2 separate regions of the Homo sapiens genome follow, and region 1 is linked to region 2. The links come from fine-mapping of genetic effects on gene expression. A gene starts in region 2. The other region holds a variant in brackets. All regions are shown on one strand. Distances are from middle to middle. Region 1 has its middle 170 kb from the start of BCHE. Region 2 holds the start of BCHE (butyrylcholinesterase).

Region 1 (5,394 bases), 170 kb before region 2:
TTGACAAATGGGATCTAATTAAACTAAGGAGCTTCTGCACAGCAAAAGAAACTACCATCAGAGTGAACAGGCAGCCTACAGAATGGGAGAAAAATTTTGCAATCTACTCATCTGACAAGGGGCGAATATCCAGAATCTACAAAGAACTCAAACAAATTTACAGGAAAAAAACAAACAACTCCATCAACAAGTGGGCAAAGGATATGAACAGACACTTCTCAAAAGAAGACATTTATGCAGCCAACAGACACATGAAAAAAATGCTCATCATCACTGGCCATCAGAGAAATGCAAATCAAAACCACAATGAGATACCATCTCACACCAGTTAGAATGGCGATCATTAAAAAGTCAGGAAACAACAGGTGCTGGAGAGGATGTGGAGAAACAGGAACACTTATACACTGTTGGTGGGACTGTAAACTAGTTTAACCATTGTGGAAGAGACTGTGGTGATTACTCAGGGATCTAGAACTAGAAATACCACTTGACCCAGCCATCCCAGTATATATCCACTGGGTATACACCCAAAGGATTATAAATCATGCTGCTATAAAGACACATGCACACATATGTTTATTGTGGCACTATTCACAATAGCAAAGACTTGGAACCAACCCAAATGTCCAACAACGATAGACTGAATTAAGAAAATGTGGCACATATACACCATGGAATACTATGCAGCCATAAAAAAGGATGAGTTCATGTCCTTTCTAGGGACATGGATGAAGCTGGAAATCATCATTCTCAGCAAACTATCACAAGGACAAAAAACCAAACATCGCATGTTCTCACTCATAGGTGGGAATTGAACAATGAGAACACTTGGACACAGGAAGGGGAACATCACACACTGAGGCCTGTCGTGGGGTGGGGGGAGGGGGGAGGGATAGCATTAGGAGATATACCTAATGTAAAGGACGAGTTAATGGGTGCAGCACACCAACATGGCACATGTATACATATGTAACAAACCTGCACGTTGTGCACATGTACCCTAGAACTTAAAGTATAATAAATATGTATACATATTTTTTTTAAAAAAGAAAAGAAAAAGAAAGTGTAGTTATGATCAGATTTCTCTTCCTTTCCTCTACGTAATATTTCTTCTCTTCCATAGAAAAGTAACACCTGTTTCTGGCCACTTTGAAATTGGAGTTAGGGAATAGTGGTACAAAGTGAGAAAGGAGATAAGCTTTTTATCTGAGGAATTCAAGCCCCTTTAAATTATCAGGTCCAGAGAGAGAGAGTGAAATGTGACAGCAGTCAAATCTCTCTCCTCCCTTAGGCCAAACAATTACCCTTTGATGCCATTTGGTATGTTGGCTTTAGAGTGATTGATATCCAGTAGCCCTACAATGCCATATACCAAACACCATAACTCATATCCTATATTTCAACAATGTATGGTCAATTACTAATCAATGTTATTTATTTATGTATGCCAATGAGAATTCCTGTCGAATAACTGTGCATCAGCCACCTCCTTATTCCCATTTGCCTTTAAAAACTTGCTTCTAACAAAGGCTCAATTGAGCACTCACCAAGGCAACTAGGAAGTATATCCCAGGCAGCTTTCCTCATTTTAGCTCAAGTAAACTCTTTAAAATTATATTTTATCCTCAGCTTATTTCTTTAGGTCAACAGGATAAAGGAAGTTGAGAAAGATCTTACTTCAGAAATACTACCATGATGCACTCAGACAAGCCCAAACTTGGCAGATAGCTAAGTCTAACATGTTGTCCTGAGAAAAGTTCTCCAGTACTGAAGACCTCCCATCTGCAATGTCCTGTAGAGAGGAAATGCCTGCTGGATAGTCATTTATTCTCAGTTCCCAGGAATACTTTCCACTTCTCTCTGCTGAGATCTAGTTCCTCAGCCTGCGCAAAATCTAAAGTAACACATATTTGAATATCTTTCATGGGTTGACTCATGACCAAAAAAAGAAAAAAACAATGCTATCAATACCTTGCCCAAAAACTGTAGAAAGACAAAACAGCCAAAAAGGCACCTTTTTCTGCTTTGATAAACTACCCCACCATCTCTCACTCTTTCTCAGTTGTAAATCAGACAATATTTTAAGATGTCTGCTAAAGTACAGAGGAACACAAATGAAGAGCTCCACATGGTTTCTTCAGAGCATCATTTTTCTTATTTAAAGTTCTATTAGAATGCCACCTCTCTCTGGTTCTCATCCCCTCTGAGACTCACAGCACAATCCATAAGCCCTAGAGAAAAATAGTCTCCAAAGGTACTTCCACATCCCCAACTCTCAACTCTGTTAGATTCTCAATGTGAATAGTGGGAGAGGCTAGTCATTTAAATAGATGCACTTCTACTTTTAAGTTTATAATCTAGCATCTAACTTTAAATGTTTCCACCTAGTTTGTTTCAGCAATTTTTTTT[A/T]AAAATGAGTATATATGTCACTAGACAGAATGCTGAATATAACCACTGAAAGATCAGATTCTGTATTTCTAGAATTTTTTAATTGAATAAATGCATTTTATGTAACTAGAGCAAAGAAGACAACAAAAACCTAGGACTTAGAGCAGAAAGCAAAAAATAACAATAATCACACTGCATTAATGATGGTAATAACATGAAAACATTAATAAATATTAAAACAAAAAAAATGAGTGTTGTAGGACAAAGCCTGTCCCGTATCTCATCCTACTTTTACTCTAGCCATAAAGCCTCCTTGGAGATCCTCAGACAAATCACTTCCTTGTTGATCCCTTTAGCTGGAGCAACTAGAAGCTGCACCTTTTCAAGCCTTTGCTCAAATGCTATCTTTTCAAGGTGACAATGACTCTCTAAAATTCCAACCAAACTTCATCCCCTACACTCTCCATTCCCTTCACCATGTTATGTCAATTTATTACCATTAGAACTTATGTTTTCTAACAAAGTACATAGTTTACTGAAAACTATGTTAATTTTTTTAGATGTGATTCTTACCACTAAAATGTAGCAGCCAGAAGGAAGAGACTCTTTATAAATTTGCTCAAGGATGTTTTTATTGTTTTTAAATAAGTAATTGCCATTTAATCAACTATATTTATTTGTCAGTCTGTGCGTGTTTGAATGGATGTAAAATAGATACCTGGCAAGCAACTATGGTACCATCTCTTTGATATAAAGCCATATAAAGCAGTGGTCTTTAATGAAACTTAAGAGTACATAAAACATCTTTATACCCAAGTAATAGCATCTTTGAGATCTACCTTTTGTTCTCATTCACGCCTTGATTTAAATTAACAAATGTATTCTCCTAACACTAACATATAAATAATACCAAAATGTATACCCATACCTAAACCTCTATTTTTCTATCTTATATTTAAAAATCCCTATAATTTTTCAAATAGGTAGATGAGGACATATCTAAATATTAAGAGATAGACAGAGAGAGAGAGAGAGAAGGAATGAGAGACCCAGTCTTACTTCATTAATAAAGCCTTCTAGGGACATCAAAGGCACGGTTTCTCAAGGATAGCACTGATAATGACTTTGGATCCCAAATTGAATTGGATAGTAAAGTTGAAGGCTTAAATACGATGCATTAATTTTGTTCCTAAGCATACATCTCAGAGAAGTTCTTGTACATATCCTAACAGAACAGATGTACAAGAATGCCTAAGGACAGCATTATTTGTTTTAAAAAAGATAAAGATCAAAAATATGCCAATTATTTATCAAATCAACAAAGAAATTTTGAAATATTTACACAATGGAAGGCCATAGATCAGTGAACACAAATAAACAACAGTCGCTCACAAAACAGAGGTTCATTTAAAATACAAAATGGTGAGTAAATAACCAGTGTGATGGTTAATACTGAGTGTCAACTTGGTTGGATTGAATGATATAACCTATTAATCTTGGGTGTTTCTGGGAAGGGGTTGCCAAAAGAGATTAACATTTGAGTCAGTGAGCCGGGAAAGGCAGACCCACCTTAATCTAGGTGGGCACAATCTAATCAGATGCCAGCATGGCTAGAATATAAGCAGGCAGAAAAATGTAAAAAGTGAGACTGGCCTAGCCTCCCAGCCTACATATTTCTCCCATGTTGGATGGCTTCCTGACCTTGAACATTGGTCTCCAAGTTCTTCAGTTTTAGAACTCAGACTGGCTTTTCTTGCTCCTCAGCCTGCAGATAGCCTATTGTGGGACCTTGTGATCATATGAGTTAATACTTAATAAACTCCCATATATAAATTAATTAGGGAGATTGGGATGGTGGAGTGGATTAATCACTTTAGACCTACTCATCCCAGCTGGTAGGATCCAGAAAATATACCCTTGACCAATACCTTGCAAAATGACTTGTGAGGGCAGCACCTGCATCTTTGAAGAGCCCTGTAATTGCCCTTCTCTGTATGTCAGATCTAACAGTGGGAACCACAGTCACTCAATTAATTTAAATACAATGGGAATAATTGGATCCCAAAGTAGCAGGGGCCAAGTGGTGGCACTCAACCTTTAAAGACATGGTGAGCATAGCTACCGTAATAGACAGCAGAGGCAAAGCGGCAATCAGAATAGCCTGACTCCTGTAGAGCTCTGGCATTGGCTAATTAATCACAGTTTTCCTAGAAGTGAAATTGATAGGAAGCCTACTGTGTTCCTACTTATTTATATAAGCAGAAAACTTCTAGGTTGAATGGACAAAACACTAATTTGAATTATGAAAACAGAATCAAAGCCTCTCAATCAATTTCCAGATGTGAGCTAGCTTACAGACCCAGAACCCCCTGAATTAAGGGGAGGCCAGGTCCCCTTGAGGAAGGACCCCACTACATTACCAACAATTTATGTCGTGAACCTTTCTCCCATCCTTCCCCAAGGAGACCTTTGGCCTTTCACTGAGGTAACTCTGTATTGGGGAAAGGGAAATTATCAGCCATTTCAGGACTGCTGGACACTGGGTTTGAGCTGCCGTTGATTCCAGGGGACCCAAAATGTCACTGCGGTCCTCCAGTTAAAGCGGAAACTTATGTAGGTCAGGTAATTATTGGAGTTTTAGCATAGATCCAACTTACAATGTGTCCAGTGGGTCCCTGGACTCATCCTGTGGTCATTTCCCCAGTGTCAGAATGCATAGTTGGCATAGACATACTTGGCAGCTGGCAGAACCTCCATATTGGCTCCCTGACTGGTAAGGTGAGGGCTACTATGATGAGAAAGGCCAAATGGAAGCCATTAGAGCTGCCTCTGCCCAGAAAAATAGTAAATCAAAAACAATATTGCATTGCTGGAGAGACTGCAGATATTAGTGCCACCATCAAGGACTTGAAAGACGCAAGGGTGGTGATTCCTACCACATCCCCATTCAACTCTCCCATTTGCCCTGTGCAGAAGACAGATAGATCTTAGAAAATGACAGTGGAT
Region 2 (5,394 bases):
CACTTTTTTGGCATCAGTATGCCTAAGGAAAACTAATGTATAATACAGGATTAATGTTTTTCACACCATCTCAAATCTTACTGAATGCTGCTATCTAGAAAACAGTGGTAACTGAGTTACAATGGGACCTTAAAAGCAAAAAACCACTGTGACTGGCTAACTGAAAGTGATCATAGAGCCAAAACCATAATGATTGTCCTGCCCAAGCTTCAGCATATATGGTTGCAAAATGTGCGCAGTGTTAATGCCGTGTCAAGTGTCTTGTGGTATTTCATCAGTGTCGCTTACAAGGCATACTCAACATTTAACAGCAGGATCATTAACCATCCATGCTGTGATGTAATGGAATAGTGCTTCCCTACTAACCCTGAAACAAGCTCACTGTGTGTGACCTACATCCTTCCGCTGGATGAGTGTGAGAAAATGATGACACCACAGAAGCAAAGCAGCTGCTGTAAGTTGAGCCACAAGGAAGAAACTCTCAAGACAGGAAGAATAAATGCTTTAGAGGTGCACTAAAATAATGAATGAACTAATGTGGCATAGCTGTGAAATCATGCGAGGAAAAGAACTACAGGGACAGTAACAGAAGGTGGTTCTTTGAAGTAAAGACATTGAGAAGAAGAAAAATTGCCAACTTGTGTAATCAGTTGATGTTGCTAGTTAGCCAGTTTAAACATGCGTTAAAGATAAAGATCTGCTTGAAACCAATTATTTTATTGTTTGGCTTCCTGTTTAAAGATGAAAATGAAATATGTGTATATATGTGACATATTTTACCTAGCAGTGAGTAGATGCAGGAAGCATGTAAAATGCTTTGCTGAATTCACTAACGTCACAAAATATTCCTTAATAATTGCCGCGTTTGATAGGCTGACCTTATGCTAGCACAGGAAACAATGCAGTGGACTTGGGTTGGAGAGAAGAATTTTGACATTTGGATTTTTAAAAATCATGTATATTGAACCCATGAACTCTCATGTGGAACATCAGATTTACTATATTTTAAACAGAAATGCCATCACTATAAAAACCATTGCAAATTTGTCAATATACTTCCATTTAAAAAGCCTTTTCCTGCTTTTATTGATTTATTGATTAATTTTTTTTTGAGACAGGATCTCACTCTGTCACCCACGATGAAGTGCAGTGGCACAATCGTGGCTTGCAGCCTCGACCTCCTAGGCTCAGGTGATACTCTTACCTCAGCTACCTCCCAAGTAACTGGGAATGTAGGCTTGCACCACCATGTCTGACCCATTTTCTTGCAGAAATTGAGTTTTGCTATGTTGTCCAGACTTGTCTTGAACTCCCAGACTGAAGCAATCCGCCCACTTAGGCCTCCTAAAATGTTGGGATTACAGTCATGAACCACTGTGCTCCACCTCCTTTTTCTCCTTTTCAGATAGATTATGTATTCTGTACCTTTTGTGTAACTAACTTGTTATTACATAAACTATATTCTAAATACATTATAAATTATTGTGATCATGATATTTATCATTGAATTAACACTGCCTAAGTAGCAATTTTCACAGAAAAGATAATTTTAAAAGACCAAAATGGTTATTCTCTTGGAAGCAGTTGACATAAAATAACAGAATAATACAGATTAAAATTCTGTTTTCCAACAGCTACTAGTGGTAAGAAATATAGTAAGCTTCTGATTTGTAGAAACCTTAGCTTTCTCATCTGATGAGGTGGTTAATAATATTAACTCTCATATTTGCTGAAATAATATAAAATATTTAATATAAATTGTCAATTATAATGACTGGCATAAGGTAGAATTACAACAAATGCTAATTATATTTGCTTGTTTGAAAATTTAACACTCTATTAAAAGGCAAAAAAGTGCTCACCTGCAAATATTAATACATGCCTTCTGTTTAGTCCATAGAAAGCCCACAAGTAAGAGATTCAAAAGTGAAAGCTATCACTTACAGAAGATTAAGAATATATTGCATTGAGAAGATAGGGATTAAGGAGTTTATCAAAGGTTTTTTAAAAAATTATTTTCCTGAACATCATTTCAAGAAAGATAAGCGCCAAAGACATAAATATATTCTCCAGAGCATGTGCACTGCAAGTTGACAAATGTGTCTCTTTTATAGAGTTTGGTGAAGGTTATTCATTTTATTTTTCCTGTCTTGACCAGAAAATTGTGGCTTCTCATCATGTATGACTGCCTGCAGGGTCTTCTGAATAGGAAATTACCAATGCTGAAATTTGTATGACTTAAATAAGTGTTGAAGTGTGGGGGTTGAAAGGAGATACATATCAGAGACATCCATTCAGTTAATAGAACTAAGTTTTTGATTTGCATAGCTTATATCTAGAGCATTGTGTTTCTTATTTTCTATATTACTATCTTCTCTAACTATATAATTAGCACAGATTGAAGCTATAATGGATTTCAATAATAGCACTACTTTAGAATGATGTATACGTCTTTAAATCTTAAGACAAGCATAGGAAATATGTATATTCTTAAAAAAAGGAAAATTTTTTTAAAGTTTAGAGTTAAAAGAAACATGCATTTTCTGTTACATTTCAGATTATTTTAGTTAAAGAATCTTCTATGCTTTTTTTCTTCATTCTTAGAAGACTACCTGCAATTGTAAAGCATGAATCCTGTAATACTTCTGTAAATGAATCACTATTGCATTTATACCATTAGCCTCTGAACAGATTTCAAGTTGCTGCTGCCAACTCTCGCGAGCTTTGTCAGTAACAGTTGATTGTTACATTCAGTAACACTGAATGTCAGTGCAGTCCAATTTACAGGCTGGAGCAGCAGCTGCATCCTGCATTTCCCCGAAGTATTACATGATTTTCACTCCTTGCAAACTTTGCCATCTTTGTTGCAGAGAATCGGGTAAGTTGCTCTGAATTTACACCTTCGTGTAGAGATCCAAGTTACTGTAAAGCTCATTCTGTGGGATGAGAGTGATCTCTTCATGTGTTTGTTGTGTCCCTTTGGTGCTCTGTGGGGAACAGTTACTGAAGCTTGCAAATGGGACAGAGGAAGTGAGCCAGCAGGCACATGCATCAAATCTTCCTATTATTCAGGGAACGCAGACTTTGTTTATTTAACTGCTGAGAAAATAATGAATTTATTCAACTCTGTATAAAGGACCATAGCACGTGTGGAATCACTGTGATATATATTCTTAGTGAGTTTCCTAAGAAAAAACATTTCATACTGGCTTACCCTTAAATGCATTGTTTATTGAATCTCTCTGTAAAAGTAATCTTTGATTAGTCTTCCTTTTTTTTTCTTTTTAAATGGGATAAAGTTAGTAGTTAACTTACTTTTTCCTGAACAAAATACTTTTCTCAATCAACATTTTGTCACCTAAAACTTTAACAGTAACAACTGGCAAATGAGAGGTCTGTTTATTTTATGTAAATAAAAACAAAACCTGTTTTCTAATTTGATTTACAGTGATTTATGAGCGTGTCCCCTTTGCCCTTTGTGTTCACTTTTTATATGTTTGTTTAAATTGTAGCAAAATATTTTACATTTGCTATTATTTTACTATTATAGAAATAGTAAGCAAATGTACTTTCTGCTCATCCTATAATCTTGTAAAACTATTATTTTGATAACATCAGTTCCACTTTAACCAGGGAATTAAATATTAAGGATTATAAAATCTATGAATGACTAAAAGTAAACTGAAATGTGATTTCATTGTTTATGATTTCTATTTATTATATATTTTTATTTTATGAGTATGTCTTCTACATTTTTATGAATATATTTCATGATAATAAACTCAATTAGGAGCTCCTGTCACTAGTCTGTGTAATGCCTTCCTTAATATAAACTATCTCATAGTTACAATAAATACAATGACAGTTTACTTATATAAGTAGTTACTTTGTTTAAGGATAAGCGTGAGCTTTTAAAGTGTGACTTTAACATTTGAATAAAAATCTTCAGAATTTTCTCTGGATATAAAATAAAGTAGTCTTTTGGATGCCAAATAAATTTCTAATTGGGTTATCAAAGTTCTGTTTTGTTCTCCTAATTTTTTGTTGTTGTTGTTTGTTTGTATTGTCCTAGTTTTTTAATTGTAAAAATATGTTTGGGATGTATTCCATATTTCATTTTTATAAAACATAAGCTACTAATAGCTAAACAAGTCACATCTTATCTATAAATTTGGTTCCTTCTTCGAGTCATTTCTTGATAAGTATAATATATATTTACATTGAATATTATCTTCATTTCGATGGTTTCTTGCCAGCATCTGCTCATTCTTACCAAAATTAGACGGTCCCAGATGTTAAGAGAATTGTAATTGAATAGATAGCAACCTAAGAGGAGATTTAATTTTCAGAGAAGACTCAAGAAATCTCTCTAATAAATGTTCAAATTATTCACACAATGAAGTTTGCAAATGTTCTTCCTAATTGAGGACAGATAAAACATCTTAAGTTTCTTATATCTAATGTAGTGTCTTCTATATGTATACATGCCTAAAGCATAGCTGAAGAATCCCTGAAAGACAGTGATGTAGTCTATTTATAATCAGACTTCCTCAATTCCCCACTTCACTTAGTCTGCAACAAAACAAGCTTTTTAAGTTTGATATAAAGACGTCGTTGTTCCAATTTCTTCAAATACATTTAAGAGAGCTTGTTCTAGATCATATTAATATTATCTAGATGGCTCTTTCTCTACCATTTTAAGAGGGTTTATTTCCAAGTAGAAATAAATATTTATTTAATTGTAACTTTTTAAAAGATAGGGAAATTATACACAGGGAAAATATTTTGAATATTTGCTTGAACATCTTTTAAAAATTCTTGGCTTGTCCCTTATTTTGAAAATCTGGTTGATATTCAAGTATCCCAAAAAATAGCTCTTTATACAAATTATTTTATCACACTCACATCTTATAGTATAACATTTAGTATTTTTTGTTAAAATCAGCTAGGGAATATTAATAGTACTTTCAAAATTGAATTAAAAATACAAAAAAAGATTTGTCACCTTTTTTATTTGAAAGTTATTGTTATAACAGTTTAGCATTTTCAAAAATTGCCAGTAAATTTTCTTAATTCCAAACAAAAACTCAGTTCCTCAAAAACTCAAATTCCTCAAAAACTCAATTCCTCAAAAACTAGAATGGTCTGAATTCCAAACAAAAACTCCTGTCTTTATTTCCAATATTAAATACTATTTTGATAAGCAAATTGATCTAAATTCAGATACACAGCTGTATTTGTGAAAATGTGCCCCATTTTTATGATAATGTTTATGCTACTATGTTCTCTCAGAATCATGTGAGACAGTATCCAATTGCACCAGAATTTATTAAAAGAAAAACGATCAAACCTGCACGTTGTGCACATGTACCCTAAAACTTAAAGTATAATAAT

The links. PIP is the estimated chance that this variant, and not a neighbour inherited with it, causes the effect.
Region 1: its variant is fine-mapped to the expression of BCHE in putamen (GTEx, PIP above 0.99). The same link has a PIP of 0.9 or more in nucleus accumbens and prefrontal cortex.

Annotation. Positions count from the first base shown.
Region 1 is chr3:166,001,652-166,007,045 of GRCh38, reverse strand. No RefSeq gene overlaps it. Among named protein-coding and RNA genes, the nearest start is that of BCHE, 170 kb to the right of the region's middle. The variant A/T (reference allele first, on the strand shown) is at 2,410.
Region 2 is chr3:165,834,798-165,840,191 of GRCh38, reverse strand. BCHE (butyrylcholinesterase) reads left to right here and starts at 2,769. Exons shown (of 4, transcript NM_000055.4): 1 at 2,769-2,878. RefSeq lists an enhancer at 2,657-2,951.